Linked DNA regions of Homo sapiens. The protein of the gene in region 2 interacts with the protein of the main gene of each other region in a pairwise test. Each region holds a gene or a part of one and is shown on either strand. Other genes may lie near its edges.

Evidence for each region. The genes of interacting proteins can lie anywhere in the genome.
Region 1: the proteins of SCN3A (region 2) and LRP2 interact in a two-hybrid assay, tested with the Homo sapiens proteins (one study listed by BioGRID).

The regions. Positions count from the first base shown.
Region 1 is NC_000002.12:169,132,035-169,135,534, forward strand, and holds part of LRP2 (low-density lipoprotein receptor-related protein 2 precursor), read right to left. Parts: intron 648-3,500; coding exon 540-647; intron 1-539. UniProt on the Homo sapiens protein: Multiligand endocytic receptor. Acts together with CUBN to mediate endocytosis of high-density lipoproteins. Mediates receptor-mediated uptake of polybasic drugs such as aprotinin, aminoglycosides and polymyxin B.
Region 2 is NC_000002.12:165,092,551-165,096,050, reverse strand, and holds part of SCN3A (sodium channel protein type 3 subunit alpha), read left to right. Parts: intron 1-402; coding exon 403-540; intron 541-1,572; coding exon 1,573-1,677; intron 1,678-3,500. UniProt on the Homo sapiens protein: Pore-forming subunit of Nav1.3, a voltage-gated sodium (Nav) channel that directly mediates the depolarizing phase of action potentials in excitable membranes.

The sequences.
Region 1 (3,500 bases), 4.0 Mb from region 2:
TCCCTGACACATCGAGGGGAATAACGTTAGTTAGATGATTGGTTGGCCAATAATGAATAGATGGATGATGAATGGAAAAATTAGTGCCATCTAGTGGTAAAGATCTGTAATAGCAGGAGAGCGAAGAACAGCTTGAAAGAATAAAGATGCATGCTGTAGAGAAATCACGGCACACACAGACGGATCTTTCATCTGTATCTTTGACACCGTGAAATCTTTATTCATACTGAGTCAATTTCTCAACTTAAATGTCTCTGGTCTGAAGATACTGGATCCAGAAGTCTATTTGTTCTTCTTTGTGACATGTCCTCCTATGTTACAAGGAACATTATTCCCAACTCGATGTTAGAATGTAGCTTTATTTGGTGGAAAGTTTTTCAATCTATGACTTTTTAAAAAATTATATTTATTAACTGTCAACACATCTTGAGATCTTTGAGCCTTCCAGAATCTCCCTTGTTTGCTTAAGGTTAATAAAAACCCAGTCATCCCAAAGTTTTTCCAAATCCCACATTATTTCAGGAGTCGGCAACTGTTACCTGAGTTCCATCAGCAGCTGGTGAAGTTGGGTTTGTCTCTGGAACTATCTCAGAAGGGTTTATGGGACTTCCATAATTCTTATTATCCACATTTTCAGATACAGTCACCTGTGGACATGTTAAAGGCCTTTACCCAATTTTGAAAGAATTTAGTAGTAAATAAATTTGCTGTAAAGTTTGTACCAACTCTGGCTCTTTTTGCCATCTTGTTCTCCCACAGACATCATCAGGCACCATTTTTATTGCATGACCCAGTAGGCCAGGACTAAACATCACTCCCACCGCCCCAAAATCAAGAGCAGCAACCACTAAGTCACCTCATACCTTAATCCTGGGAGGCAAATACATCCCTCACTGGTCACACTCTCACTTATTACTAGCAATTTCTACTGTATTCTCTATACCTTCTTACTCCCACTGTTGACCAAATTTTTGGATAATCATACTCTAGTTATATACTGGAAGCCAAATCCTAGAAGAACAGCAAGAATAATTCCCCAACCTCACTGATGAACTGAGAATCCTATCTTTGGATCTTAATAATTTCTTTGAATATTAATAAATCCTATCTTCGGAAATTAAGATTTCATAGTACTACTAAAAAGAGGTTGAATTTTTGAAAAGATGAGAATGATAGAATTAATAATCTTCTACGCATTTTTCTATAACATTCATACAATTCCAAGGTTCCCTTTTAAGACCAAATTACCATGAATGCATAATAAACTACAAGGTAGACAATTCACTCCTTTTCCTATATTTTCACATTCATTACTTGTTTATTCTGAAACTTGGATATGCATTTGTATACATGGCCTCATTTTATTTTAAGTGAAGATGTCAAATGAAATGTCGTATCTCTTTTATCATGTGATTAAAGTTTTCATATCTGTTTATCAGAGGATCAGGGAAAATGCTTTCAAGATTTAAACATTTCCGATCTTAAAATCACAAAATATTTGTAAAATAAACATTTCTAGTTTCTGTATTAAAATGTGCCATATCTCGAGTTCAAAAGGAGCATTAGGTGTTAACAATGACAGTTATTCATTGTCACTAAGGCCATAGTTGTTGTGACAAAGGAGATACATGTTCGCAGTTGACAAGCAGTAAAAGTGGCGCTGGGGCTATTGATGCAGACCTTATGTAAAGTTATTCCCTTCACCTATATTCCTATTTCATCTCCCAGCTCTTCTTAAAGATGACGGACTGAATCTCAAACATGCTTTCTTTACTATTCCTTTGCACCCGTCATCCCAGCCTCTCTTCACTTTCACTTAGACTGAACCTGACACCCATCAGGCTCAGCAAATTACCTGGGCTGTACTGCTGCAAAGCTTCACAGACAGCCCCCATTACTTCAGTCAAGCCCAAATTTCATCCTCATCTGTTACCTATTTCGGCATAATTCTCATAAAAACACACATGCTCTCCCTGCTGATCAAGTCTGACTAATCTCCCAAACCTCAATCCCTTCTACAAAACAACAACTCCTTTCCTTCCTAGGCATGGTTAGTGCAGTCAGAATTCTTACACAAGAGCCGGGACCGTGCCCTGTAGCCTTTCTGTCCAAACAACTTGACCTTACTGTTTTAGCCTAGCCCTCATGTCTGCGTGCAGCGGCTGCCACTGCTTTAATACTTTTAGAGGCCCTAAAAATCACAAACTATGCTCAACTCACTCTCTACAGTTCTCATAACTTCCAAAATCTATTTTCTTTCTCCCACCTGACGCATATACTGTCTGTTCCCCAGCTCCTTCAGCTGTACTCACTCTTTGTTGAGTCTCCCACAATTACCATTGTTTCTGGCCCAGACTTCAATCCAGCCTCCCACATTACTACGGATACCACACCTGACCCCCATGACTGTATCTCTCTGATCCACCTGACATTCACCCCATTTCCCCATATTTCCTTTTTTCCTGTTCCTCACCCTGAACACACTTGGTTTACTGATAGCAGTTCCACCAGGCCTAATCGCCACTCACCAGCAAAGGCAGGCTATGCTATAGTATCTTCCACATCTATCATTGAGGCTACCGCTCTGCCCCGCTCCACTACCTCTCAGCAAGCCGAACTCATTGCCTTAAGTCAAACCCTCACTCTTGCAAAGGGACTACATGTCAGTATTTATACTGACTCTATATATGCCTTCCATATCCTGCACCACCATGCAAGAGGTTTCCTCACTACACAAGGGTCCTCTATCATTAATGCGTCTTTAATAAAAACGCTTCTCAAAGCCGCTTTACTTCCAGAGGAAGCTGGAGTCATTCACTGCAAGGGCCATCAAAAAGGCATCAGATCCCATCGCTCAGGACAATGCTTATGCTGATAAATTAGCTAAAAAAGCAGCTAGCGTTCCAACTTCTGTCCCTCACAGTCAGTTTTTCTCCTTCACATTAGTCACTCCCACCTAGTCCCCCGCTGAAACTTCCACCTATCAATCTCTTCCCACACAAGGCAAATGGTTCTTAGACCAAGGAAAATATCTCCTTCCAGCCTCACAGGCCCATTCTATTCTGTCATCATTTCATAACCTCTTCCATGTAGGTTACAAGCCACTAGCCAGTCTCTTAGAACCTCTCATTTCCTTTCCATTGTGGAAATCTATCCTCAAGGAAATCACTTCTCAGTGTTCCATCTGCTATTCTACTACTCCTCAGGAATTTCTCAGGCCCCCTCCCTTCCCTACACCTCAAGCTCGGGGTTTTTCCCCCGCCCAGGACTGGCAAATTGACTTTACTCACATGCCCCAAGTCAGGAAACTAAAATACCTCTTGGTCTGGGTAGACACTTTCACAGGATAGGAAGAGGCCTTTCCCACAGGGTCTGAGAAGTCCACTGCGGTCATTTCTTCCCTTCTGTCAGACATAATTCCTCGGTTTGGCCTTCCCACCTCTATACAGTCCGACAGTGGACCGGCCTTTACTTGTCAAGTCACCCAAGCAGTTTCTCAG
Region 2 (3,500 bases):
CAGAATATATCTGTGCTGAATTTTCCTCTTAGAAGTTGATGTTCTGCTCTTAAAGCCGTATTTCCAAAATTCAGCATTTCCAAAACCAAACAGAAAATACTGCAAAAAATTATGACTAATAATAGGCTCAAAATGTTTTCCCTGCTTATATCACCGTATTTATGTTAAAGAATATGTTAAATGTAAGGCACAATGGGAAAAGAGAATCAAGAACAATCATAAAACTTGCAAACCTTCATTTTACTAGATCATACTAGTTTTAAAAAATTGTTTTTGTAGAACAATATCTCAGGGTAAGGCAAAAGTAGCACTGTATTAAGTAACAGCACTCAATAAATTACTGATTTAGTGTAAGTATTTATAGTATTTTTCATATTATTTAATATTTTCAATATCATTTAGGTTAAACTTCAGCCTGTATATGAAGAAAATCTGTACATGTATTTATACTTTGTCATCTTTATCATCTTTGGGTCATTCTTCACTCTGAATCTATTCATTGGTGTCATCATAGATAACTTCAACCAGCAGAAAAAGAAGATAAGTATTCTTTAGCTTTTACCTTTCTTCATTCTGGGGTTCTGTCTGTTAATACAGCCAAATAACCAGAATACCTGTGGTCATGACAGACTTAAATCATGTTTATATTATTTTCAGTTGCCCATGTGGTTATTTAAGCTGCAGGGATTCCAGCCTCTAGTCAGTGGCTCCTCTCAAAGTTTATCTATTGGATAGCTTTCTGACCCAAAAATGTGTCCACTCCTTCGGACCCATCCAACGGGTCTCCAGTGCTTTAGCTTGGCTTACAGAGCCTTTCAGGAATTACCTCCACCCAGTTTTCCATCTTCATTTTTTCCTACACTTCACTCTATACATGTGTATTTCCCTACTACATAGTCACCACCCATACATCTATATGAGCTTTCTGCCCTTTTCTGAACAAGCATTCTCTTGTACCTCCATGGCTTTTTGTGATTTTTTTTTATCCTGGAATGTTCCTAGAAAACCCATAATCATCTTTTAAGGCCTAGCTTAAGGGTAAGCTATGTAACAGCTTGTCTCTGAGTCTCTGAATTCATTGTTGCCTCTGCAGTACATTTAATTTTTTTGTCATATCAACATACACTGTCCACCTACGTTTTCAGTTTCCTGCTCCATTTAGAAGCAGAATACTGTATCTTATATATTTATGTAATTCTGACACCCAGCACATTGTCTAGCACACAGAAAGTGTTAAAAACTGTTGAATGAAGAAGTAAAATTATCGGCAGTGAAATGGACTAAGAAAATGTTTTCTGTTTTGCAAAAATATATTTGAGACCCTTGTGCCTACTTTTAAACATAGTATAATCAAATTAGGATCCTGTAGCGATCAGAGTTTTATGTACGTAAGGATTTTGCATAATATTAAGATATTCAGAATTTCACATAAATGGGAAAAGCAGGATAAATGTATATGTAGGAGGATAATATCCACTTAAAAATTAGAAAAGATTAAAGGAAAGACAAATATTTTTTGTGAAAGTACTATTGGAACACAGAATTGTAACCAGTTTTATACTATGTCTTTACTTTGGAGGTCAAGACATCTTTATGACAGAGGAACAGAAAAAATATTACAATGCAATGAAGAAACTTGGATCCAAGAAACCTCAGAAACCCATACCTCGCCCAGCAGTAAGAATTACTTGTCTCCTTTAATGTTCCAAAGCCATGCGTCCATATGGTCAAATTGAGCAATGCTCTGGAGCAGAACATATTAGGTGATATCACCAATATTGAGCCCTAATTATAAAGTTCATATTTTGCATCATAATTCACAACTTCTGCACTCATTAGGAGTTACCACATTCCAAAAAAAGGAGGTAATGTTCTTTATAATTTGTGAGTTGAAAACTTCTAGCTCAGGGTTCCTAATAAATACTTCCAAAGCAAGGTTCACTTTCCTGCTACCAACAGCACACCTGGTTCCTCCTCCTCTAGCCTTCCCATCCCACTCTCCAAGGCCTCCCTCTATACTCTCTGCTCCCTCCATTCTTAAGACTAGAAAATATTCCAAACCTGTTTAGAAAGGGAAAAGGTGTCATCAAAATTGTTTGTTTCACCAAATACACCAAAACAGAATAAGGCATATTCAGAATGCATACTCTGTAGAGCCTCATGATGATGGAATGATGTAATAATGACAGATTATGTTCACAGAGCTGGACTCTAACTCAGCTATTTTCTGAGATTGGTAAGGAGTAAGGAAACTGAGGCCCAAAGAACATACGAATCATGCCCCAAGTCACAAATCTTGTAATTGCCAGAACTGGGACTTGACAAGGCCCCATAAATTCTCTAAGTGACTTGACTTTACCATATTTATAAGAGTAGTTGGAGCTGGAATGTGAGGGAGCAGGGTAAGAGGGGAAAGGATTGAACTGACTTTACTAGAGTTCTTTAAAAATTAAAACATGGTCACTTCATGACCTTTGATTTTTGGTAAGCCATGAAGTTTTAAGTTTTTACTCTAAATGATTAATAATATATTTCTTTAATAAAACTGTATTTACTAGCCATATTAATATAAGAATCTTTGAAAGCATGTTGTTCCTGAGATGATTGTTAATAAGACAAAGAAAAAAAGTGTTTAAAGTCATGCATTTTTGTTAAAGCACAGGGCATAGGTAAAGAAGGACAGATGGAAAGAAATACAGATAAATTAACAAGCCCATACATAGATTCACAGAGCTAGAGAGGTAGAATTCAATAGAAATATGACTGATGTATTTCAGGGGAGGGAAATAAGGTATAAACCAAAATTTCTAAAATATTGATAAATGAATTGGTGTATTCTCTATCTAAATATCTGTTGATATTAACCTGCTTTGTAAATCTTTGTTATTAGTAGTCACTATTTTTTATAAAAATTATCATACTTATTCAAATCAAGCAAAGACTACATATATTATCAGCCAATTGTCACAAATTTATGTGTTTGTTTTTGTTTTGTTTTTTAAGAGACAGGGTCTCACTCTGTCTCTCAGGCTGGAGTACAGTGGCAAGACCATAGCTCACTGCAAGTTCAAACACCTGGGGTCAAGTGATTCACCTCAGCCTCCCTCGTAGCTGGGACTGCAAGCCTGTGCCACCATACCAGGCTAATTTTTTTTTAATAGAAATGAGGTCTCACTATGTTGCCCAGGCTGGTCTGGAACTCTTGGCCTCAAGAGAGCCTCCAGTCTCAGCCTCCTAAAGTGCTGGAATTACAGGCATGAGTTGCCACGCCCAGCCTTAATTTATGTCTCATCCAGCTTTGTCTTTCCATAGGACCTATATAAACCAAATATGCTTTGTTTAGCTATATAAATTTTTTTTCCATTTTTTTTAACATGAAGAGAAAAAAAGCACACAAAATTGTTTGGGGTAATATGAGGAGGGTGCACATCCATCCCGTATGTGGAAGGGCTTTATCTACAATTTTACTGCATTATTCTTTATGAAATATATATAGTAAC